3 separate regions of the Homo sapiens genome follow, and regions 1 and 2 are each linked to region 3. The links come from fine-mapping of genetic effects on gene expression. A gene starts in region 3. Each other region holds a variant in brackets. All regions are shown on one strand. Distances are from middle to middle.

Region 1 (8,184 bases), 21 kb before region 3:
GAAGAATCCTCTTTCTCGCCTGAACTTCTGTGGCACTCTGTCCAGACTGACTTTTATCATTTATTATAATAAGTGGTATAGCGCACAAACCTGATCCATTTTCTAGACCAAGTTCCCAACGCACAGGCTCTGAGGGGGATTCAGTTGAATCTCCCAGGTGCTTATTCCTTGCTGCAAGGCCTCTGGAAACTCCTGCTTTATGAATCTAGAATCAATGAATAAATATCCTGACAAATAGCTACTTACATGTAAACTCTAGATGTTATCTCATTTCTCTACACTGCATGAGCACTGTGTTGTATCTTTCGGCTAATAATATAGACAAACTAAGTTAATGATTATTCTTGCAAAGATGCAAAGATTTTTTTTAATCTAGTATGAACTAAAAGCCATAATTAATCACCGAGAAGGATAGCCTCAACTTTTTTAAACTGACTGTAAACTGATTACCTAGTGCCACTCGGCTAATACACTGGAACCAGCCCTTGGTAGACAGATGTGCCCTTCCAAACAGATATGCACAGTAGGCCTGGGCTCATCCCAATTTGGAGCTACTCCCAACTACTCGGATCTTTGCCTTGGATCAGCCCAACAAATGAGCATCTTATGGAAGATGAGGCCGCTCACAAACCCACAATGAAATACATGGCTTGGGCCCTCTCTAATGAATTACTCATGAGTCAGGCATGACACCTGAGTCTGGGAGGCTCCTCTCATAAAGTCGGTAGTAACCTTAACATAGAAAGAAGTTATAAATGACTATGCAACCTTACAACTGGCTTCCACCCATAGTCATCGCTACTTCATATGCAAACAGCACCTCTGATATCTCACTCAGATTCTAAAGAAATCTTTGCTAGGGGAAGAGAAAAAGGGAGAGGAAAAAAAAGACATTCTCTGCTGTGTTTTACATTTCTTAATCCTCTCTAGTTTCGTCTAGAGTTTAGAGAAAGTCAGTGAGAAAAAAGATTATGGGCATGTTCCTAACCATTTATTTCAATTTCCTTTATTATTAGGTGGAAAAGTAGTTAACAGCTATGCAAAGCAGGTGCAGAGAGGAGGAGGAGGAAGGCAAAAAGAGGGCCGCTTTTGAGGTGCATGAACCAAGAAGAGTCGCTGCCTGCTCTGTGCCATCATGCAGCTGTTAATGCCACAAGGCTGCTCTCCCACCCTCCCCAAAGTTGATAATGAAAAATCAAAGCACAAACAAAAGCAATGCACAGAACAGGATAGCAAAACCCGATCATCCTGCACCAACCACATCTCTTCAGTGCATCTGCTTTGACCTCTGCTTTTACAAGCACTACCACTGAAAATAAGCTAGAACAAAAGCTGATTCGTTATGCACAACCATAAAGAACTCCGGGGCACGCTACATACATAATTCATCATGCCAAGCACGCGACAATCAGCATCATTTATCTTTGCGGTATTTTAAAGCGGTGACAGGTTACTAGATATTTATAAAGTCTCTTATTTCTATGAGACCCTTCCAAATTTAAGAAATAAAGAACCTTATTCCTCTGCAAATGGCACTGCTTACAAACCTAAGACTATATATCTCCTGGAATTCACCTGGTATCCATCATAAGAGGGTGGCTACACGACCCTAATAAACCAATTAAGCTAGCAGCCGTTCCACATCAGTCCTGTTGAAATTAATCTTATCAAATCACTTCCGCTTTCTGTTTTTTAAAACATGCTGCAGTCTTCTTCCCGCTGTGGTTAAAATTTTTCTTGAAACATACACTTAAATCAGTCATGCTTTCTGTCTAATGGATGAGGAAACCGGAGCCTGGGAAGGTTCAAGAGCTCAGAGCTAGGAGGAGAGAGGCCCAGGACTCTGCCTCATTAACATCCAAGACTCAATTGCCTTCATCCCCAAGGACCTACCTGGGGGCCTCTATTGTTTATTATTGTCTGAATTACCTCTAAGTGGTCCCTCTGACTCCATTCTTACTCCATTGAAATCCATCTTCCACACTGCTGCCCTGAGTGTGCTGACAAAATGGAAATTTGACATTTCCCCATTTGACCCTTCAGTATTTTCCTCTCACCCTCTGAAAAAAACCATCAGGCTTTAATTTAGCTTAACACCCAGATGCCAGAAGTTCCTTCTGGTGAAAAAGTGTTAGCTAGTGAATAGATAGGCTAAAAGTTATTTACACGGGATATGTACAGTGGTTCAACCTGTAATCCCAGCACTTCGGGAGGACAAGATGCACAGATCACTTAAGCACAGGAGTTCAAGACCAGCCTAGGCAACATAGTGAGACCCTGTCTCTACAAAAAAAAAAAAAAAAAAAAAAAAATTAGCCAGACATGGTGGCACGCACCTACAGTCTCAGCTAACTCGGGAGGCTGCAGTGGAAGGATAGCTTGAGCCCAGGAAGTTGAGGCTGTGGTAAGCTGAAATCGCGCCACCTCACTCCAGCCTAAATGACAGAGCAAGACTCTGTCTCCCAGGAAAACAAAAAAGGTTTAAAAAGAAAACAAAAATATTTACAGACGTGCATTGATAAATGAATAGTTGGGCTGCCAGTAATTTGTACAGCCCATCACACGTCAGGGGCCCTGGTTTTACAGAAAGTCCCTACGACTCACCTCCCCTGGAGACCTCCCATCCATCTAACCACCCCACACACACACACGTGGATCAAGACAGATTCCATCCCGCAGGCCTCTCCGAGCCCCTGGAGATCTTTTTCTCCTGGAATTTATTACACAGCCCTGCAAATCTCTGCTTACTGTCCACACTGCTTCCCTGGACTGCAGCTTCCCGGGGTCAAGGCCTTGCTCCCCTCCCATGCCCCATGCTCTGCCCCATGGCTGGTCACTGCCAATCCCCAGCAAATGTTTATAGTCCAGTACTGCAATGTTAAAAGCAACCATGTGCATTTCACACAAGGAGTCCTTACTTTTTTTCTTTTTTTGGTGACAGGAGCGTCACTCTGTTGCCCAGGCTGGAGTGCAATGGTGCAATCTCAGCTCATTGCAACCTCTGCCTCCGGGGGTTATTCTGCTTTTCATTCAAATAACTACCCATTTTTAATGGGTGACAAGCTATTGCCTTCCTGAGAAGCAGCACAGGGTGACAGCAAAGACCATAGGTTCCTGAGGACAACCTGGGCTCTGCTACATGCTGTGTGCCCCTGGCCATATGACTTAGCCCTCCTCTGTCTCCACTCCTCATCTGTAAACCAGGATGATGGTAATCAGAGCTAATGTTTACTGAGCCCTTATTATATGGTAAAAACTACTTGCAGCTGGGC[G/A]TGATGGCTCACACCTGTAATCCCAGCACTCTGGGAGGCCGAGGGGGCTGGATCACTTGAGGTCGGGAGTTTGAGACCACCCTCGCCAACTTGGTGAAACCCAGTTTCTACTAAAAATACAAAAATTAGCTGGGCATGGTGGCACATGCCTGTAATCCCTGCTACTCATGACAATGAGGCACAAGAATCATTTGAACCAGGGAGGTGGAGGTTGCAGTGAGCCAAGATCACTCCACTGCACTCCAGCCTGGGCAACAGAGTGATCACAAACACGCAAACAAAGAAAAAACTACTTGGGGACTTGACATCTATTCATTCATTTCCCCCTCACAACATCTAAGGAGACTCTGATAGCAGGTGTAAATGCTTGGGAACTGTTAGAATTATTTTTACCTATTTACAGACGAAATTGAGGCCCAGGGAGGCCAAGTGGCTTCCCAGAGGTCCAGGCCCCCGACTTCCTAATCCACTGATTTAATTACATCCAAGGCTCAGATGCATGGGCTCAGATGTATGAATGGCATTCAAGAAGTGCCTGGGAGAGGTTAACATACTGCTGATAAAAGATGCAAGGCCTCTTTCTCTAATGCTGGTTTAATATAAAGCAAGTAAGCTGCATGGCAATATTCATCTCTAGCTACAGCTAAGGTGACACTTGTTCTGTCACCCTACCTAGGAAACCGTATCAACTCCCTGAGATGAAAATCTGCCCCATTCCAGAAATGAGCTAAATCAAAGGAGGGAGAAGGAAGGAAGAGGAGGCTAAGGCAAAAAGTTATTCACACTTTGCATAAACATGCCCGGATGGCAAGCATTATAAAACGATCTGTGTAACATAAGCTTCTGGGTCCATGGGAGGCAAGGGAGCATGTGACTGTGCACGGATATGAACAAAGCCAGCGACACACCACCAGATTCTTCAAAAGCAAATATTTGTCTATGACCAAAGAATCGGGATTCTTTTCTAACAAAGAGGAATGTACACCGTTCTAATTCCTGATTCTTCCTCCTGCTTTACAGTGGGTTATGATCTCGATGGAAATCCCCCCATGAATAAATGTGTCTGCAATCACAAATGGCCCCATAAATCAGAAGATTTATGAACTGTAAAAGGGGACGGCAGGAGGATTCCAACCTTGCAGCTTCCTTCATGCGGACCACCTGGGGCCGGATGCATGGCAGTTTATCACTTCCTGGAAACAGTCATCTGGCTTTTCTTTTTAGCTAAGCAAGAAAATGTTATCAGCCCTGGTAATCAACAAGATGCAATCATCCCTGCTATTTGGGTAAGCTTTTAATGCCGCACCACATTACACAGAGGAGGCTCAGATGCATAGGCTCGGATGCATGAACAGCATTCAAGAAGTGTCTGGGAGAGGTTAACACACAGCTGATAAGCTCTGGCTGGCTGCAGTGAGGCCTGGCCCAACAGCCCCTAAGGCAAATTCCTGAAGGGACTAAATAGAAAATGAGTGGATATTCCCTATTCCAAGGGAAAAAATAAAAATAAAAAAAAAGATGGGAACAATACAGTAACCAGGGAAAAGCACAGAGCATGCACATGTGTGTTTTTCTTGGGGAGGGGGAAATGCATATATTTCAGAGGCTTAACAAATACATTCAAAAGAACACCTGCTCCATCCCAGACAGGCAGCAGAACATCGTGCAAGAGTGAGACGGAGACAACCGGGCAGTGCCACTCGTGAGCCATCTGGGAGTGAGGGGTGTCAGGGAAGGGGACAGATGCACCCTACAGGGCTTTGCATCCCAGTTCTTATTACTGTACCTTGGGCACAAAACAGCCCAGCTCTAGGCAAGCCAGTGAGCCATTTTTGGTATCATAGTGTTCTTTTGGAAAATTCACATTTCTATTTTTAGTTCTTCCACATGCAATTCATAAGCAATAGCCCTCCGGAATCAAAGTCACCTCAGCTATGCCATGAGTCAAGAGAATCCCAGTGAATATATTTTTTAATAGCATGTTCAGGGAAAATGTGACCAGCTCTGTTCGGCCATACTGTCTGCATTGACTTGGCAGTTAGCATGAAATGAAGGATTTTAAAGACCAAACACTTCAATGAGTCCTGTGAAAAAAACTCCCAAGAACCTGACTGGGGACTTTGTTAGCTTGAAATAAATATATACGTCATTAAGTATGTTTTAAACACAGAAGCAACTATAACAGGATTTAATTGCTTACTTTTTTTTTTTTTTTTTACAGGTCAAACACATTTTAGAGTGCTGGGTTACACCCACTCTTTCTTCATCACATGTACAGAAAGGCAAAGAGTGTGGGTAATCTCTTAAATTTTAAATTCCCACTTGGTATGAGGATAAAACATCCAAGAAACATTTCCTGTGCAGAACACACCAAGCTTAGGTGTAGAAAATACAACGGTGTGGAACTCGAGAGGATGGTTCTAGGATACAAATAAAAACAACCACGCAGCGCGGGAAGATTTTTGTTTAGAAAACAGATGGGACAGAAAGGCAGATGCAATGTTTTGAGTCAATGAGATACAGTTCGTTCTTAATTATATTTCATTGATTTCTTACATGGACAGAACATCATTCTTGCTGCCACTGTTTTATTTTGATCAGCGGTATATCTATCTGTAAACATGTACAATTTGTAATTATTGCTATGTCTAAACACTGCATCACGTGTAATGGCTGAATTAAGCTGTGAAATGCGTAATTATGCTGAAAACAATGGTGTTCCAATACACATCACCAAAGCCAATTTAAAAAAATTACCTTGTTTCAAATCACAAAGCGAAGCCTTCATAACCCTCGAGGCTTTTTTTAGGTCCCACCACTTTGATTTAGAGATTTGTCTTTTTCTAATTGCATCTCAAGAGTGTTCCGAGCACAGAGAGGGATTATTAACCCTGAAGGAAATAAAACTGAGTATTTCTTACACCTCTGGAAGGTGGAGAACGTACTTAGTTTAACAATCTGGAAAGGATCAAAGGTCTGCCGGTATAGGTGTGACTGAACAATACATCCATTGGTAGACTACTATGCTATATTTGTAGGATATACTATAACATTCTACACACACACACACACACACACACACACACACACACACACACATAATAATCTTCTATAACAGGGTTCTAACTGTTCATATGGAGGCATCTCAAAAATATATTTTGAAGTGATCAAATGCGAGGTGCAGAACAAGGAGTACAGCATGATCTCATTCCTGTTAAAATATATGCAAATACATGCTTTATTTTCCCTGGAAGAAATCAGCAAGAAACATTTTACAGAGGAGACAGTTTGGGGAGGGGTTATGAAAAAGGGGGCTTTGCTAATGAATCTACCATCCACATATGGATAGCACTTTTTTTATTTTCAGTTAAAGTTATAAGGGTGAAGAATCACTATGTGATTCCCGCTGTCACCTCTGTATTTAGAAAAATGTTATGAGGTTTTTTTAAGCTCTAGAAGAAATCACAGAGGAAGCTATTAATATACTGAATGAAATTTGAAACTTCAAAACGTTAAAGGTTTTTAAAGCAAAGAGGGGAACAAGCTAGAAAAAAATGCCTTAAGTATGATAGACAAAAGGTTATCTTTTATATATGAAGAGTTAATATAAACTGATAAAACACTGTGATTAAAAAAAAAAAAAGAAAAACCACCAAGATGATGCCAGAAGATGTTATTAGAGGATTCAGAAAAGAAGCAACACAATTAGGCAACATTTATACAAGAAAACGTTCACATCCACTAGTTAAAATCTTCAGTCACCAGTGACATATTGTTTCCATTAAACGGTAGTGCATTTTATAGATGATACCCAATGTTGAGGAGGTACAGTGAAAAAGATCTTGCATCTGACGTGCCCATCCTCATGGGAAGCAACGTAAACGTGCATTGAGATTTAATGACATTTTTTGCCTTTGACTCAATGACTCTACTTCGGGGATTACTGCCCAAATAAAAAAGAGTTTTTATAAAGAAATACAGTCATCAGAGAATCACTCACAAAAAAAACTGGGAACAAGAGCACAAATGGTTGGATAAACAAAAAGAACACAAGGTTAAATAAACAAAGGTGAAAAATCACCTTGATGTACTATTATGCAAGCATTTTTAATTACTGTATAAATACTAATCACAGGAAATTATATCCATGTTAGCATAAGTTTAAAAAATCAATATTTGAATTATTTATACAATTATAACTACATATTTTTAAAACCTAAGCTTAAGGAGGAAACAAAGCTAAAAGACACAGAGCAAAATGTGTAGTGATTACTTTAGATACCCACCATGAGAAACTTTTTTTTCTTCTACTCTCCAAATTTTTTATGTTTTTTTGAGTCAGTCTCGCTCTGTCACCCAGGCTGGAGTACAGTGGCACGATCTCAGCTCACCGTAACCTCTGCCTCCTGGGTTCAAGCGATTCTCCTGCCTCAGCCTCCTGAGTAGCTGGGATTACAGGTGCGTGCCACCACGCTCAGCTAATTTTTGCAATTTTTTACTAGAGACGGGGTTTCACCATGTCAGACTGCTCTCGAACTCGTGACCTCGTGATCCGCCCGCCTCGGCCTCCCAAAGTGCTGGCATTACAGGTGTGAGCCACCATGCCCGGCCTATAAGTTTTTATAAAGGGGAAAAAGCATTTTTAAAAGAGCATAAGGTGTTCATATGAACAGAGATCATACTGTATTCCACCTCTTCTATGAAGAAAAGAGTTTTGATCCACAAACTTATCACTCTTCTAAAAGTATGTTTAGACTCTTGTACCTTCTGGAATGGTGGAAACAGCAGCAAACTCCTACTGAGCTCTTGCCAGGTGTCAAGCATTGTTCTAAGCATTTAACACATATAACTCAATCTTCAGAACCAACACAAACTATTATGATGCCTAAAGTCACATAACTAAGAAGCAGTG
Region 2 (8,184 bases), 35 kb before region 3:
CTCCTGGCAAATTTTGTGTTTTTAGTAGAGACAGGGTTTCACTATGTTGGGCAGGCTAGTCTCGAACTCCTGACCTCAAGTGATCCCCCTACTTCGGCCTCCCAAAGTACTAGGAGCCACCACCCCTGGCTTAGCTACCTATTTCTATTGTCAAGGTTATCCAACTGTTGTAGGTTAAATGGTCCATACTCACTAACACACTGGTGAAGGTGGATAATTACTATTTCCAATTCCCATGTTGCATTCCATAAAAGACACCAACCAACTCCATGAACACCTTGATTTGTCTTAGTTGTGTTCACATTATTAAATTACACTGATTTAGGAGCAAAAAATCCTTTGTAAGTCATGGGCATTGTATAAGGTTGCCCAATTTACAAAACAAAAATATACGCTGGGTGTGGTGGCTCACAGCTGTAATCCCAGCACTCTAGGAGGCCAAGGTGGCAGGATGACTTGAGGTCAGGAGTTCAAGACCAGCCTGGCCAACATGGTGAAACCCCGTGTCTACTAAAAACATAAAAATTAGGCCAGGTGCAGTGGCTCACGCCTGTAATCCCAGCACTTTGGGAGGTCAAGAAGAGGTCAGGAGATCAAGACCATCCTGGCTAACACAGTGAAACCCCGTCTCTACTAAAAATACAAAAAATCAGCCAGGCTTGGTGGTGGGCGCCTACAGTCCCAGCTACTCCGGAGGCTGAGGCAGGATAATGGAGTGAACCCGGGAGGCCGTACTTGCAGTGAGCTGAGATCGCACCACTGCACTCCAGCCTGGGCAACAGAGCGAGACTCTGTCTCAAAAAAAAAAAAAAATTAGCCAGGTGAGGTGGTGCATGCCTCTAGTCCCAGCAACTCAGGAGGCCGAGGTATGAGAATTGCTTGAACCTTGGAGGTGGAGGTTGCAGTGAGCCAAGATTGCACCACTGCACTCCAGCCTGGATGACAGAGGGGGACTTTGTCTCAAAAAAAAAAAAAGGAAGAAAGAAAAAAATATGTATTATGACTAAATCAGAACATCACATGGAACATATTTACACTAAAAATTATTCGTTGCTTACGTGAAATTCAGATGTAAGAATAGATGTATACATGAGACCCACCCATAAGCAACACTTTATTGTTTATCTGAAATTCAAATTTAACTGGCTATCCTGTTTTTTTGGTTTTGGGTTTTTGGGGTTTTGTTTGTTTGTTTCTTTGTTTTTGATACAGGATCTCACTCTATACCCCACGCTGGAGTGCAGTGATACTATCACAGCTCACTGCAGCCTCCATCTCCTGGGCTCAAGTGATTCTCCCATCTCAGCCTGTCAAGAAGCTGGGACCACAGTCGTGGTCCTCCCTCAGTATATATGGGGGGTTTGGTTCTAGGGCCCCCACCCCCAGCATACCAAAATTATTTTTTATTTCTTGTTGAGAGAGGTCTCGCCATGTCGCCCAGGCTGGTCTCGAACTCCTGGGCTCAGGGGATCCACCCGCCTCGGCCTCCCAAAGTGCTGGGATCACAGGCGTGAGCCACCACACTCAGCCGACATCCTGTATTTTATCTGGCAATCTTAACATTGTATTAGGACAAGCGGAAAACAGATGAATTAAGACATGGCATCTTACCACAGGAGCTCATTGTCTGGTGAAAGAGCCAGACCTGAACTAGAATCATACAATGGAGGATTGGAGGCGCTTTCCAAGCGCTTTCAAGAACACAGGGAAGGAGCAATTAAATCCTAACTGAGATGCACACTAATGTCTCCATCCTGCACAATGAAAATGAACGTTATAGAATTTATTCTATCATTCTATATATCCCACAGATTCTTTAATCCTGATTCATGAACTCGCTACAGTGTTTTCAGCCAGGCACGGTGGCTCACACCTGTAATCCTGGCGCTTTGGTAGGCCGAGGCGGGTGGATTACTTGAGGTCAGAAGTTCAAGACCAGCCTGGCCAACATGGCAAAACCTACTCTCTACTAAAAATACAAAATTTAGCCAGGCATGGTGGCAGGCACCTGTAATCCCAGCTACTTGGGAGGCTGAGACAGGAGAAGCACTTGAACCTGGGAGGCTGAGGTTGCAGTGAGCCGAGATCACGCCACTGCACTCCAGCTTCGGCAACAGAGTGAGACGCCGTCTCAAAAAAGAAAAAAACAAAAAATTATGCTTTCTGCCGTTATTTTCATCTGAAGCAAGTTACTGACAAGGTAATGTGAAGGGGGTTATAAAACACTGGCCATAACAGATTCAGAAACACAGATGAGAAAAGATGCTCAGTTATTTCAATGCCAAATAAGCCTCCTCACTTTTGTGCTTTGAAAGCGAGCGGGGACTGAATGTTTACCTGTTTCAGAACTACAGTTTAGAAGACGGTCTTCCCCATGTCTGCTGAGATGAGGGATTCCCCATGAACTCCTCACATGCACAGCTCTGAAAGTAAGATCTGGGGCCCTTATTTGGAAAACAAACTCCCTAGATCTTTTTGCTCCAGCAGCCAAAGGAGCTGGGCATGGTACAAGAGTCACTGGTCAGGTGGGGTCAAGCCAGGACAGTGCTGGAGAGATCTGTCCCGAGCTCACTCGAGTGTCTTTCTCATGGCACTGGGGCAAGCATGACCTGCACAGCCTGGCACAGAAACAGCACTTGCCCAGAAGATACTTCCCCGTATTTCAAGATCAAACAAAGTAGGACGCAGAAAAGAAAAGAAGCAAGGGAGGTAAGGGATGGTGTGTACATATTTCCTGTTGGAATTCCTCTGGAGTATAAAAAAGAGGGCCTGACAATTGCCAAACATATCAGGTGAGGCTTTGGGATCCACTGGTGGGAAACACTGAATATATTTAATATCCAAGACAATAATTCAAAGACTCTAAATTGGGAAATTAGCTTAATAGTATTTTACTTGCAAGGTCCTACATTTCAATATTAAAAATACTGACACATTAAAAAATGAAATTGGTCTTTTATTCCTAGCCTATTCATCTTTGCATCTTTCCCAGCACAGAGCATCCCCATGGCACTCAGCAGACCCCCATGATGTCTGGTCAATTAATGAGTTAATGGATGGTTTCAAGCCCATGAGCCAGATTCCTGTCACCGGCATGTATCAGTTTATTGCTGCACACGGGAAACCTTGCAGCCACAGGGCTTTGTTTATACACTGCCCTAGAAGCCACTAGGATTCTCTAGATCAGAAAGAGAAATATATTCTAGTTCTCATCTTTCAAACTGGCTCAAAACCTGACACTTTCACATCAGGAAAGTGAAAAAAAAAAAAAAAAAAAAAAAAAAAAGAGGAGAGATACCGAAAGAGCCAGGCTGTTCATAATTTTGTTTTGGAGGCAGTGCAGAAGAAAACATCCTAGAGAGGCACTGCCAAATTCTAAAAAGAGTCTTAGAATGCCAAAAACAGATTCAGTCCCTTAAGCAAAGTGGAAGGGAAAAAAGAAGCCTATCAATTCAAAGCAATAAAGATTTAAACAGAAAGTTCATGAGACATCAATAAATTCCGCGTGTGGCCCTATTGTTTAGTTACTAAACTGCCAATGCAACTTTCAGTGGTTAACCAACACAGCACAAGTTT[G/A]CTCCTAATTTAATATCCCTTTCAGATTTCTGATTCCATAATGAGATATCTTCCAGGCCAAAATATGCCAAATTTTTCTACCCTGAAACAAACCTGTGAATTTTCTGGGCTTAGGTCCTTTCTTTTTTCCTCCATTCAGCCACTGAAATAATAAGAATTCTAATTAAAAATGAGTTCAGGCCCGGCGCGGTGTCTAACGCCTGTAATCCCAGCACTTTGGGAGTCCCAGGCAGGTGGATCACAAGGTCAGGAGCTCGAGACCAGCCTGGCCAATATTGTGAAACCCCGTCTCTACCAAAAAATATATAAAAATTAGCCAGGCATGGTGGCGGGTGCCTGTAGTCTCAGCTACTCAGGAGGCTAAGGCAGGAGAATCGCTTGAACCCGGGAGGCAGAGGTTGCAGTGAGCCAAGATCGCACCAAGGCACTCTAGCCTGGGCAACAGAGCAAGACTCCGTCTCAAAAAAAAAACAAAAAAAAATCTTTTGTTTGTAAACTCAGTAGATATATAACTGTCCTACAGTGACATTGACAAGTTAACTTTTAAAATACCTAAAGCAAGTTTCCCTGTAGAGTTGGGCAAATTCCATATGCTGACTGCCCACTTGTTGATACATTTTGCTATCAGGAACCCAACACCACCAATTTTGGGGAAACCTTTTTCTAAACAAATGAGAAAATCCAAGATGATTCAAATAGCTGAGCTGAACAAAACAAAATGCTCTGAGACAATGACTGGTGTTCACTGATCTGGGTCATTTGCCTGCCTCCACGCCTGACAGCCTTTGACCTATCCCAAAGCAACAGCCATCTGTCTAGTATCTGAACAGAAATTGGGACGGAGCACAGGGGGTATACAAGGCAGGGAGTAGTTAAGAAGCCAGCAAGGGAAGGAAGGAAATTGTTTAGTAAGTGCCCACTACATGCCAAGCATTGTCTTAGGCATTTTTATATGCATTATTTTATTCAGTCCTTACAAGAGCTGTATGACATAAATTTTGCTTTTTTAAAACTAAGCAAGTCTCAGATGTCTCCATGTCATCAAAATCTAAATATATAACATTATTACCCTTTGAAAATTCTAATAAATGAAAGAAAATTTAAATTTAATATTTAAAATTATATTAAATGGCCCATCCAGTTTTGGAGCCTAGGAAGGGTTCAACAAGAGTGATTTATTTTACTAAGACCTAGAGCAACAGATGAGACCTATGTTACTGAAAACGATTATGCAATGCTATAATTACAACTATATTAAAAATATGCCTTTTGGGGGATACTCTCTTCATTGTGGCGATGGCCTCACAGGTAAAAAACAAAAATAGACAGTCCTCCCTCGGTATATATATGGGGGGTTGGGTTCTAGGGCCCCCATCCCCAGCACACCAAAATCTATGCATAAAGTCCTGAAGTTGGCCCTCGGGACCTGCATATGAGATGAGCCAGCCCTCCGTATGCACAGGTGGCGTCGAGGTGGACCCAAGCAGTTCAAATCTATGTTGTTCAAGGATCAACTACACTCATGATTCAGACCAAAATAGAAATAAACAAAGTGAAAATATCCGTAACAACAAGGATAAAGCATTCTCAGTCAAAAAAGACTATATAGAGGAACACAAGCCAGATATCTGTTTTATATTTCTCAACATATTTTCTGCACAATACCAGCTCCAGCGGATGTTACTTCTTACATATGCACACACATACACACACACATAAAGATTCTTCAGTCAATAAGTTTGAAAAATGCTTGGTTAAACAAAGCTCACCACGGCTGGTAGTGATGGCTCATGCCTGTAATCCCAAAACTTTGGGAGGCTGAGATGCAAGGATCACTTGAGGTCAGGAGTTCGAGACCAGCCTGGCCAACATGGCGAAACCCCGTCTCTACAAAAATTACATGGGTGTAGTGGCACACGCCTGTAGTCCCAGCCACCTGGGAGGCTGAGGCAGGAGAATCACTTGAACCCAGGAGGTGGAAGTTGTAGTGAGCCAAGATCACACCACTGCACTCTAGCCTGGGTGACAGAGCAAGACTCTGTGCCCCTCACACCAAAAAAAAAAGTTCACCATGTTTCCTAACTGTGGAACTTCTCAGAGGCCTTCTCATACACTAAGATACTTGGTGCTATTCAAAGACAGCTTAATAAAATACAGTTGATCGTTTAACAACACGGGTGTGAACTGTGCTGGTCTACTTATATGACAGTTTTCTTCCACCCCTACCATGCCTGAGACAGCAAGACCAACCCCTCCTCTTCTTCCTCCTCCTCAGTCTACTCAATTTTAACATGACAAGGATGAAGACCTTCACCGATGATTTACTTCCATTTAAGGAACAGTAAATATATTTCCTCTTCCTTACGGTTTTCTCAGTAACATTTTCTTTGCTCTAGTTTACTATATTGTAAGAATATAGTATCTAATATCTATAATGTACAAAATATGTGCTATTGACTGTTAATGCTATCAGTAAGACTTCCAGTCAACAGTAGGCTATTAGTAGTTAAATTCTGCAAAGTCAAAAGTTAGATGTTCAACTGAATGGGGGGTCGGTGCCCCCAATGCCTGCATTGTTCAAGGGTCAACTGTATTTTTTACTAATTTTAAGTGATATCTGGTATTAATCCCATTTTCAGTTAAGTGGCAGTTCAAACAAATTAAAATAACTTACCCATCAGGACTGCATACCTTAGGTGGAGGATTTAGGATCTGAAACACATTTGGCTGGCTCCAAAGCCTGTATTCTCTCCCATTGTCCCACAGTGCCACAAAAAAAATGGAAATAATTAATTTGGGTCTGCCTGCTCCCTCTCAGGGCTGCAAATCCTTCATCAAGAGTCAAGGTACGGTCAGAGGGAGCACACGCAGGCCTGAGATTCCACAGAAAGAGCACAGAACAAAAGATGGAAACCCATCCCACTCACACGACAGCCCTTCTTGGGTACACTCTCTTTGGTGGCAGATGCCCAAAGATAACAGACTGTGCTACGCGTCAACAATCTCATCTGACTGCTAGGTTAGGTCCATTCCATGTAAAAATAACAACAACCCCTGCCTTCTCAGTCCCCTGTACTTAATTATTAGAAAAAGAGAAGGAGAAAATACGCCAGTTAGGAAACTTCAAGAACGCCCTCTGTTCCTTTCCATTTTGCTGGCATGCATCTCTACTAGAAGCCTGAGAAAATAAGGCATCAAGGTGACCAACCTACATACACTTGTACCGGATTCTCTAGAATGTGTCTTCAGGAATTCCCCGGGGCTCTTCCTGTGGTGCTGAGAGTGGCTCTGCCACCATCACAGCAAACAGGAGGCTTAAGGATGAAGTGACAGCCGCTTTCCCAAATGAAATGCCATAACATCACCCAGACCGCCTCACTTAGGACTGAGGGCTCCACGCATTCAAGCAATAACTAAAGGAGAATCAGTGTGAGGTCATCCACTGAGTCATGCCAAACTACAAGACCTTTTTTTCTCTTGAAAAAGGGTGAGAGAGATGTTTGCTCTTGGCAGACAGTTCTAATTTTCATGCAAATTAAATCATTGGTCTCGTTTCCATTTCTTCTGGGCTCATACGCATACATATTTATGTATACATACGTATACAAACCCACAACCACTTATTTCATCACTATGAAAGCCCAAATACCTTATTATAATCACTGCAATGGACATGACAAGAACTGGGAGTTCTATTTCACAGTCCCTATTAGCGATTATGACAGAAAGTCTACACGTGCCTTTTAATTTCATCACTTAACGTTTCTTGGGCTGAGGTAATATCAAACTCATCTTTACATTCATCCACTGTAATTTCAAGTAGAATGCCTGAAAAGTGGTAGACATATATAAAACATCTACCGAACTGAATTAAAGCAAAATAAAACATGTAATGTAAAACAGAACACTCAGGCCTTGTGTCTTACAAAATCCTTGAAACTTCACAATCGAGATGTGACCATTGCCAAGTCTTTCCAATGAATTAAAAAGCAAACAAAATTTCTACTATACTTATGCCACGTGAAATTGCTGCTTTTGTAGGTCAAGAATGATTGGATATCAACAATTTCATGTGGTTCAGTCTAACAGAATATAATCAATCACACAAACTAAGGTAGAAAATCTGGATATATCTCCAACAACAATGTTCCACTTACCACAATATTCATATACAAAGGATATAATCACAAGGTATATACCAAATTAGTGTGAAAACAGCATGTTTCAGGACATCTAAGGAAATCGTATAATCAAAACTTATTTTTTAAATTAACAAGATATAATAAAGGCATTTTACGTGTAATAAAATTCACCAATTTTAAACGTAGAACTTGATGCATTTTGACAGATATAGTCTCGTAACCTCCACTACAGTCATGAGGTAGAATATTCCCGTCACCACAAAAAGGTTCTCTTGTACCCCTCTGCAGTAAATCCCTTCCCCATACCACCGGCCCCAGACCTGCTTTCTGACAGTGTATCAGTTTTGCCTTTTCTAGAACTTCATATAAATGGAGTCATACAATATGTACTCGACTGGCTTCTTTCACTCAGCATAATGCTTTTGAGAGTCATCCATGTCGCTTTATCAGTAGTTCATCTCTTTTC
Region 3 (8,164 bases):
AAAAAAAAAAACAAAAAACCCCAGACAACTAGTCCTGGAATTCTTCCACTTGCTTATGATGGTTTAAAAAAAGAAAACGAAAAAAAAGTCTACTGGAAAACACTCTCCAGAAAACTCTTAGCTTTCTGTCCCTTCCGTCTCAATTATTAAGCACTGCCAGAAAGCTTCATTTGCTTAACACTTACCAAAAAACAAACCTTAAGACGTCTATAAAACTCGAAACTGCCAGGAAATTCCCGAGGAAACGCCCCTCAAAGATTTCAGTCATCTATCTTCCATGTCCCTGAGTGGGCGGAGGGGAGCAGCAGCCCCAGGATTTAGTCATGCATTACAGTCTGAAATTTCTGTCTTTACTCATCCATTGTTCACTCCAATTACAAAAGATTTTCTCTGGAATTTCTTAAGAAAAGTGAGCAGTAATTTTTACTTTCTAATTACATTCTGAATGTAAGCAGAGTGCTTAAATGCTTGAGGGGATGGATACCGCATTTTACAATCTGATTTCTATGCATTGCATGCCTGTATCAAAACATCTCATGCACCCCACAAATATACAAACCTATGTACTCACGAAAATTTAAGTTTTTTAAAAAATTGTGACACTGGACACTTGAAACTCAAACTCATCTACCCCTTTGAGACGTGTCTAATGAACACTTTAGCCAACGATCAGTAAGAGGCTAACATCGGACACTGTCCAGAATCTATCTGTTCAACCACCTGAAATTTCCTTCCACCAAATGTGGGCTACATCGACAAGAGGGGAAAGGAGATGGCAAATGTTGTGACTGGAACCCATTTTGGAAGTCTGAGTCTGTTAGGAGAGGATGACACTTGTGACTGCATTTCATAAGGCTCAGGTACTTACTACCTTTTGCTCATCTCCAAATCTCCCTGTGTTTCCCTTACGAAGCTTTCCTGGAGAACCCGTGAAGTTAAACAAACATTCTGCCAAATGACAACCAAGTATCTCCAAAAACATATCTTACAGCATACCACAGAAGAACTTCTCCCTCTCTCCACTTACCTGGAAAAGCATGTGGATTGGGCGATCCTCTCTTAAGGCACTTAGAACAGAGAATGTGCACGGTGTAGTGCAGTCCAGGCCATTCCTGAAGTAGGACATTCAGTTCCTCCACCAAGGGGGTTATGGCTTGCCATGCGGTCCATATATTTGGTAATGATGCATGGCTAGCAATGGACAGGGTGTCTGGCTGCAGGACTCCCCTGGCAGGTCTGTAACTCACAACCACAGGAACTTTCCCTCTATAGGCAAAGATCTGAAATTTACCATCCGACCTGTGCACCACATGGCTGTTGATCTGGACACTGTAGCGTGCAAACAACCCAAGTGGAAAAGTAAAAGGAAAGCTATATTCAATCTGCAACTGCTCAGCCACAAAAGACTGCCCAGCTAGGTTGGTCCCATTAATCCAGGCTTCTGCATGGGGCACCTCGTTCTGCACATAGCATGGGAACTTGTACCAAGCTGTGGACCCATTCAAAGGCTTGCCCTTGGGTTTATTGAGGCAGTAACAGAGTCCCATCTTCTCCAGCAGCTCCAGCAACAGCTGCAAGTCCTGCTGGGCCTGGACATGAGGCTTAAGCAGCAACCGAATGACATGAGCTGGCAAGAGCCCATGCAACAGAAAGCCCTCCACATACTGATGGAGCTGGGTGGCCCGGAGCAGTTCCTGGCTGGGGGTGGACCGCGCCATGGGCGGGGAGCTTTCCCCCTCCGCCTTGCCCTCTCCACTGGTCCCTAGGAGCAGCTTATGCAGCAGCAAAGAGGGATCCCTCTGGAAGAAGACATTGAGGATGTCGATGAGGCGGGTGAGGTTGTGGAAGACGTGCTCCTTGAGAGCCGGACTGTCCTCAAAGTAGAGTAGCTTGCCGCTCTCATGCAGGTAGGAGAGGGCACTCTGCAGTCGGTCCTCGGTCAGACCCGCCTGCAGGCCCAAGCGCGCCGAGTCCCACCAGCTTAGCCACAGTCGCTGGGCCTGAGGTGGCTGGAAATGCAGTTCCTCCAGCACCTGCCAGGATCGAGGCAGTACTCTGTGTAAGTTGGGGAAGATCTCTCGGTGCTCAGCAACTGACAGCAACTTGTCCCGAAGGCGTCGTAAGTGGCGCGGGTCCCTGCAGCTAACAGGCAACACGGGGGAGAGGATCTGCAGCCGGTGGTTGAGCAGGTATTGAAAATGGGCCTTGCGCCGTCGAAGGTTCTTGTCCGAAACGCCATAGTAGGCTGCGTGGGGGCTGGCAGAGCGCAGCTCGAAGTCCCGGGCCAGTGCCTCGTCCACCACCTTGGCCAAGCGGCTCAGTCCCTCCGCGTCGTGCTTCTCCTGCAGGGCGATCTGGCGGTGAATGTCCAGACATTTCTCCTCCAGCTCACGCTCTCCGCACAGGTCTGCGTGGGTGCCCACGATGCACACCACCGCGTGGGGCACTCTCGCCCCGACCCGATGCAAGAAGGAGCCCACGGTGGTAGGAAAGTGGCGAGGCTCATAGGTGGCCAAGTTGACCACCAGCACGTATAGGGCCCCTGGGGACAGGAAGAAGGGCTGGATCACCTCATAACTTTCATCCCCAGCTAAGTCATACACGATGAACCGCAGGCCCCGGGAGGCATCGGCCGTCCAGCTGGTCACCTCGATGCCCTTGCTCACAGGGGGAGGTGACGGTGGGTAGCACTTCTCCTTGTCCCCTCCTCCTGGGCATCCCTCCACTCTCTCCTCGGTGAGGCAGTGGCGCAGCAAAGTCTTTCCTGCAGCCTTATGCCCCATCAGGAGCAGCTTGAGCCGGGGCTGCACCGCCGGCTGGGAATGAGCCAGTTCCTTCTGGTAGGCTGCGATGTAGGGGATCCCCTTCATGCAGACCTCGTAGGGGGGCTGGATCAGTGGGTTGTCTTTGATCTTCCACAAACCCACCCGGGAGAGCTGGCCAAAGTGGTCGGGCAGCACCGCGATCTGGTTCCCCTGCAGCACGAGCTCCTCCAGGCCGGTCAGCTCCACGATGGAGTCCGGCAGGTAGCGGATGCGGTTATTATCCAGCCACAAGGTGAGAAGCCGGCCCAGGCCCGAGATAAGGGATGGCACCGAGGTGAGCTGGTTGCGACTAAGGTAGAGCTCCTCCAGACCAGCCAGGGGCAGCAGCGCGGCAGGGAACTCCTCGAAGAGGTTGGAGGAGAGGTTGAGCATTTTGAGCCGCTGCAGGCAGCTGAACTGGGCGGGCAGAGCCTGCAGCCCGTTGTTGTCTAGCATGAGGCTCTCCAAACTGGCCAGCTCGCAGAAGCCGGCGGGCAGCGTGCCAAGCTCGGCCCCACTCAGCCAGAGGATCTTGAGGGCACGCAGGGCACTGATATCCTCAGGCAGGCCCCGCAGCCGGTTGCTGGACACGTCCAGCTCCTCCAGGGCCACCAGCTGCAGCAGCTGCCGGGGGAAGGCAGTGAGCTGGTTGTGATCCACGTCCAGGGTGCGCAGGCGGGAGAGGCAGGAGAGGGAGTCAGGCAGGTGCGCCAGCCGGTTAAAGCTGACATCCAGCTCCTCCAGGTGAGCGAGAGCGCCCAGCTGGGCGGGCAGGGCGGGCAGCTGGTTGTGGCTGAGGTTGAGCTTCCGCAGCTCCCTCAGAGCACTCACCACCTCCGCGCCCAGGGCGGTCAGCCGGTTGTGGCTCACGTCCAGCTCGGTGAGGTGGTGGCCGAGCTCGGCCACCGCCGGGGGCAGCCGGGCGAAGCGGTTCCTGCGCAGGACCAGGACGCGCAGGCTGCCCAGCGCCGACCCCAGCCCCTCGGGTACCTCCTCCAGGCCGTTGTTCCCCAGGTTCAGTGCCTCAATGTCCCCGAGGTTGGCCGGCAGCACGAGCTGGGGGGAGGCGGGGGACTCGAGCGCGTCGGCCCCGGCCCCGGGGCAGGCCCCGGCGGCGGTAAGCGTGAGCTGGCGCAGGTTGCTCCGCAGCTTCCTGGCACGCAGGGCGGCGTCCCGCCACAGCCTCGCGGTCTTCAGGTTGCCACTGTCCATCCCAGCCATGGCGGGGCCCCGGGCCGACAGCCTCACGCGGACGCGGGAGCCCGCAGCTACATGCCGCGCCGCGCCCCGGGCCCTCCGGCTCCTGCCCCTGCCTGCCCTCCCGCGCTCGGCGGCCGGCGGCCGCGGGTCCTAGCGCAGCCAGCGGCCGAGCGCTGGCGGCTAGGGGGCGGCGGCGACGCGAGCGGCTCCGGGGGACGCCGAGCGCGTGGAGAGCAGCTTGCATTCTCCCTGCGGCCGGGCCATGGGCGCGCCGGGCAGCAGGGCCGCCGCCCGCGCGCCGCGGAGGATGCCTGCTCCTCCTCCCTCTCCGCCCGCCGCGCGGCGCCTCGGGGGGCCCGGCTCCGGCCCCGCTACCCTCGCAGCCGCGGTCCCGCGGCCGGCAGCGGCGTCGCCTCCTCGAGCTCCTGGGGGAGGGCGGCGCTCGGCCCGGCGGCGGGCATGCTGCGGGCGCAGGGCTGGGGCGCAGCCGCGGGGAGGGGGCGGCGGCGCCTCCTTGTCTCCGTTTCCCCGGGCTCGGGCGGGAGCGCGGGCGCCGCGTCCCCGGCGCTGGGAGGGCGCGATTGGGAAGCGGCAGCGCCGCCCGCCGGAGCGGCCCCCACGTGACCGGCGGAGGCGCCGCGTTTTCCCGGCACCGCCCCGGGGGCGGGAGCTGCGGAGGGCGCCGGGTGCGGGGCCGGGGGCGCCTGGCGCGGGGCCGGGTCCGCGCCCCGGACCATGCTGGGCGGGGAGGTCGTCCCAGCGGCGGATGTGGGGCTCCGGGGCCCCCCTGGTGGGTTCGCCCGCGCCTGGCTCTTTGTTGGCCCCCAGTCTCTAAGGATTTCTTTTTCTTGTTCTCTAATGCGTCGGATCCGCCGGCTTCCCTTACTCATCCTTTACCTGCTCCCCTGCCGCTCGCCTTGCATCCACGCCGTAGTGGAACTGGCACAACTCGGGGGCCCTGGGTATCATCATAGAAGCTTAGGACAAGAGTGTGGTTAAACAAAATTAGAACAGGCAACCATTCATTCATTTGGTAAATATTTCCTGAGGCCCTATTTCGTGTTGAACATGGGACAGGAGTAATGCAGGCTGGTCAGAGGAGAATAAAAAATACCAGGCAGCAGTTTCACTTGACTGGAGGCTATGGGCTGATAAGACCCTGAAAACCAGGGTGTGTACCAAGCTGGCTAAGACCGGCTGGACCCGACGTGGTCCTGGATTTGACCTAGGTTTCTCCTAGGCCTCCATTATACGCTCTTTAACATCCTAAGTCACACCAGTGCCATGACAATTCCGGGGACACCCATATTTGAAGTAAAAATGGGTGGCACCACAGTCCCGAAAAATCTCCACACTTTTCCAGGAATTTTCATGAATATTTCACCCCTTGGTTAAAGAAACCCATAAAGGTAGCAGCCCCAAGCCCCGTTGTGAGTGACCCTCTCCACAATCCCTTTTCCTGGGTGTGTACTTTTCCCTTTGCAATAAATCTGCATATTGTCACTATTTTCTGAGTTGTCCTTGAACTCATTCTCTGGATGTGTCAAGAGCCTGGACATTGGCTGGGGTCAAGGTCGCACTGGCTTTAGAGGATCTCCCCCAGCCCACCCGTACCAGAACTACTAAAAGACGGTTTTAACCCCCCTGGGGAAGGCTTTTGAGCAGGTGGCCCGCCAGCCTAAAGGAGGGTTGTTAAGATGGGGGGGACACAAGCTGTTTATCTGGGGTATCCCGTTTATCTTCACAACAACGCTGTGAAACAAATACTGTATCCCCATTAATACAGTACCTGTTGTTCTGCGGACTCAAGAAAACAGCTATTTTGGGAAACAGTCACAGTCCATTGTTCAACTCTAATGCTTATTTTTATTGCTGTTAGGAAATGTTTCTTTGAGCTCACATCTATGCTAAGTCAATAATTTCTCCCGAACTTATGAAAGTCTGGAAACCTACCAAGACTCCCAGTGTCACCTCCATCATTCCCTTCAGGTTGATTGATAAGGAAGCAAATAGTTTTCAGGGACCGAAAACTGCGTTCAGTTGGTTAAAGGCATCACTTGACCCACTGCAGCTCTCCCCGACATGCGCTATGGCTGTCATTTGGGGACCCATATTTGGTGCAGTAACGTGAGAAGTGTGTGTTTCCAAAAAGAGCACCTGAACATCTGAGGCTGGAAATCCACCCCAGTGATGGTTATCAGGCTGCAGGTAGTACATGCTGTAACTGGAGGATGTTCCCCAGTTCTGCTGGGTCCCTGAGGCTCTGACACCACAGATGAAATGTGAGTAAGTGAACAGCAAGAGCTGATCTGTGTTCACTCTGAAGGACTTCCGAGAGTTCAGATGGCTCAGGGTAGCCCCACCCACACTCCCTCCCAGAGACAGTCAATTTTACAACAAATATTCTGAGTTATCTAGGCTGACCCTTTTTTTCCCCCACAGAGGAGGAAATGGGCTCAAAGTAAGTGACTTCTCAATCAGCCATCAAAGTAGAGTAGAGGCAGGACTGCTAACTCCCCGTGTGGAATGTATTCCCCTGTGATCATCACCTGTACTCACACTGTTCTTGAGCCAGACCCCAAATTCTCCATCCTGCAGCTTCTTCTAACAAAAATATGAACTCAGCCTGGGTAAGGAGACTGGAGTAGGCATCACCATCCTACACCACCTTACATGATTATATCTCAATAACTGCTAACTGTTCCTCTTTAGAAGCCATCAGAAAATTATACTTCCTCCTGCAGAAGCTGAAATCAATTGAAAAAAATGAAAATTGTGCTTGCTTCAGCAGCACATATACTAAAATTGGAAAAATACAGAGAGGATTAGCATGGCCCTGCACAAAGATGACATGCAAATTCATGGTGTTCATTTATTTAATAATATTTTCATTTAAAAAATTATTTTAAAAAAGAAAAATGGCCGGACATGGCATCTCATGCCTGTAATCTCAGCACTTTGGGAGGCCGAGGTGGTGGATCAGTTGAGGTTAGGAGCTCAAGACCAGCCTGGCCAACATGTCAAAACCCCATCTCTACTAAAAATACAAAAATTAGCCAGGCATAGTGGTGCGCACCTTTAGTCCCCAGCTACTCAGGAGGCTGAGGCACGAGAGTTGCTCGAAACCAGAAGGCGGAGGTTGCAGTCAGCCAAGATCACACCACTGCACTCCAGCCTGGGTGACAGAGTGAGACTTTTTCTCTGAAGAAAATTATATTTTCCTTTCTTTTCTTTCTTTCTTTTTTTTTTTTTTTTCTGGAGATGGGGGTCTTGCTTTGTTGCCCATGCTGGACTCGAACTCCTGGGCTCAAGCAGTCTTTTTGCCTGAGCCTCCTGAGTAGCTGGGATTATAGGCATAAGCCACCCTGACCAGCTTATACTTCTATTTTAAATGTCCTTGGAAAACTGCACTCTTCATTTGTCAGGAGATCATCTATAATTTGCTTTATCTAATAAAAAGTACTGGCTAGGACCCTGCGCTAGGGGCTTCAAGCCCCACTAAAGCCCCAAAGCCTGGAGTGAATAAGTGTGCTGGGGGTGGCAATTCTTTGTGAGCCCCTCAGCTGATGCAGTCAATATAGTAGGAAGCCTTGTAAGAATCCTTGTCTATGAGTTCTTTGAAAGTCAGTATGTGAATGGGCACAGGGGTATATGCCTGTAATCCCAGCACTTCCAGAGGCTGAGGCGAGCAGATCATTTGAGCTCAGGAGTTCGAGACCAGCCTGTGCAACAAGGCAAGACATCATCTCTACAAAAAATACAAAAATTAGTAGGGTGTGGTGGCGCACACCTGTAGTCCCAGCTACTCAGGAGTGACGCGGGAAGATCACTTGAGGCTGGGAAGTGGAGGCGGCAGTGAGCCAAGACTGCACCACTGTACTCCAGCCTGGGAAACAGAGTGAGACTCTGTCTCAAAATACAACACAACACAACAAAAGAAAGTCAGTATGCTAAAAACTAGAAAGTCAAATGATAAAAGATAACTCAATGATAAAAGAAAACTCTATGAAAAGATATTGTGTTCCATATAGCTTTAAAATTTTTTTTTCTTTGTGCTTTCCACTTTCAAAGAAACTGCTTCGTAAAGAACTATAGAAATGATTCCTGGGCTGGGTGCAGTGGCTCACACCTGTAATCCCAGCAGTTTGGGAGGCCGAGGC

What was found.
Region 1: its variant is fine-mapped to the expression of MFHAS1 in blood mononuclear cells (TOPMed, PIP 0.99).
Region 2: its variant is fine-mapped to the expression of MFHAS1 in whole blood (TOPMed, PIP above 0.99).

The regions. Positions count from the first base shown.
Region 1 is chr8:8,868,004-8,876,187 of GRCh38, forward strand. The region is part of intron 1 of MFHAS1 (multifunctional ROCO family signaling regulator 1); the gene reads right to left. Among named protein-coding and RNA genes, the nearest start is that of MFHAS1, 22 kb to the right of the region's middle. RefSeq lists a silencer at 476-770. The variant G/A (reference allele first, on the strand shown) is at 3,273.
Region 2 is chr8:8,853,723-8,861,906 of GRCh38, forward strand. All of the region lies in intron 1 of MFHAS1 (multifunctional ROCO family signaling regulator 1), which reads right to left. Among named protein-coding and RNA genes, the nearest start is that of MFHAS1, 36 kb to the right of the region's middle. RefSeq lists an enhancer at 6,704-6,913. The variant G/A (reference allele first, on the strand shown) is at 3,577.
Region 3 is chr8:8,889,034-8,897,197 of GRCh38, forward strand. It overlaps MFHAS1 (multifunctional ROCO family signaling regulator 1), which reads right to left and starts at 4,597. Exons shown (of 3, transcript NM_004225.3): 1 at 1,028-4,597. The coding sequence starts at 4,025. It also overlaps the pseudogene RNU6-682P. RefSeq lists enhancers at 1,097-2,057, 2,058-3,017, 3,018-3,978 and silencers at 3,823-4,092, 4,203-4,482, 4,493-4,742.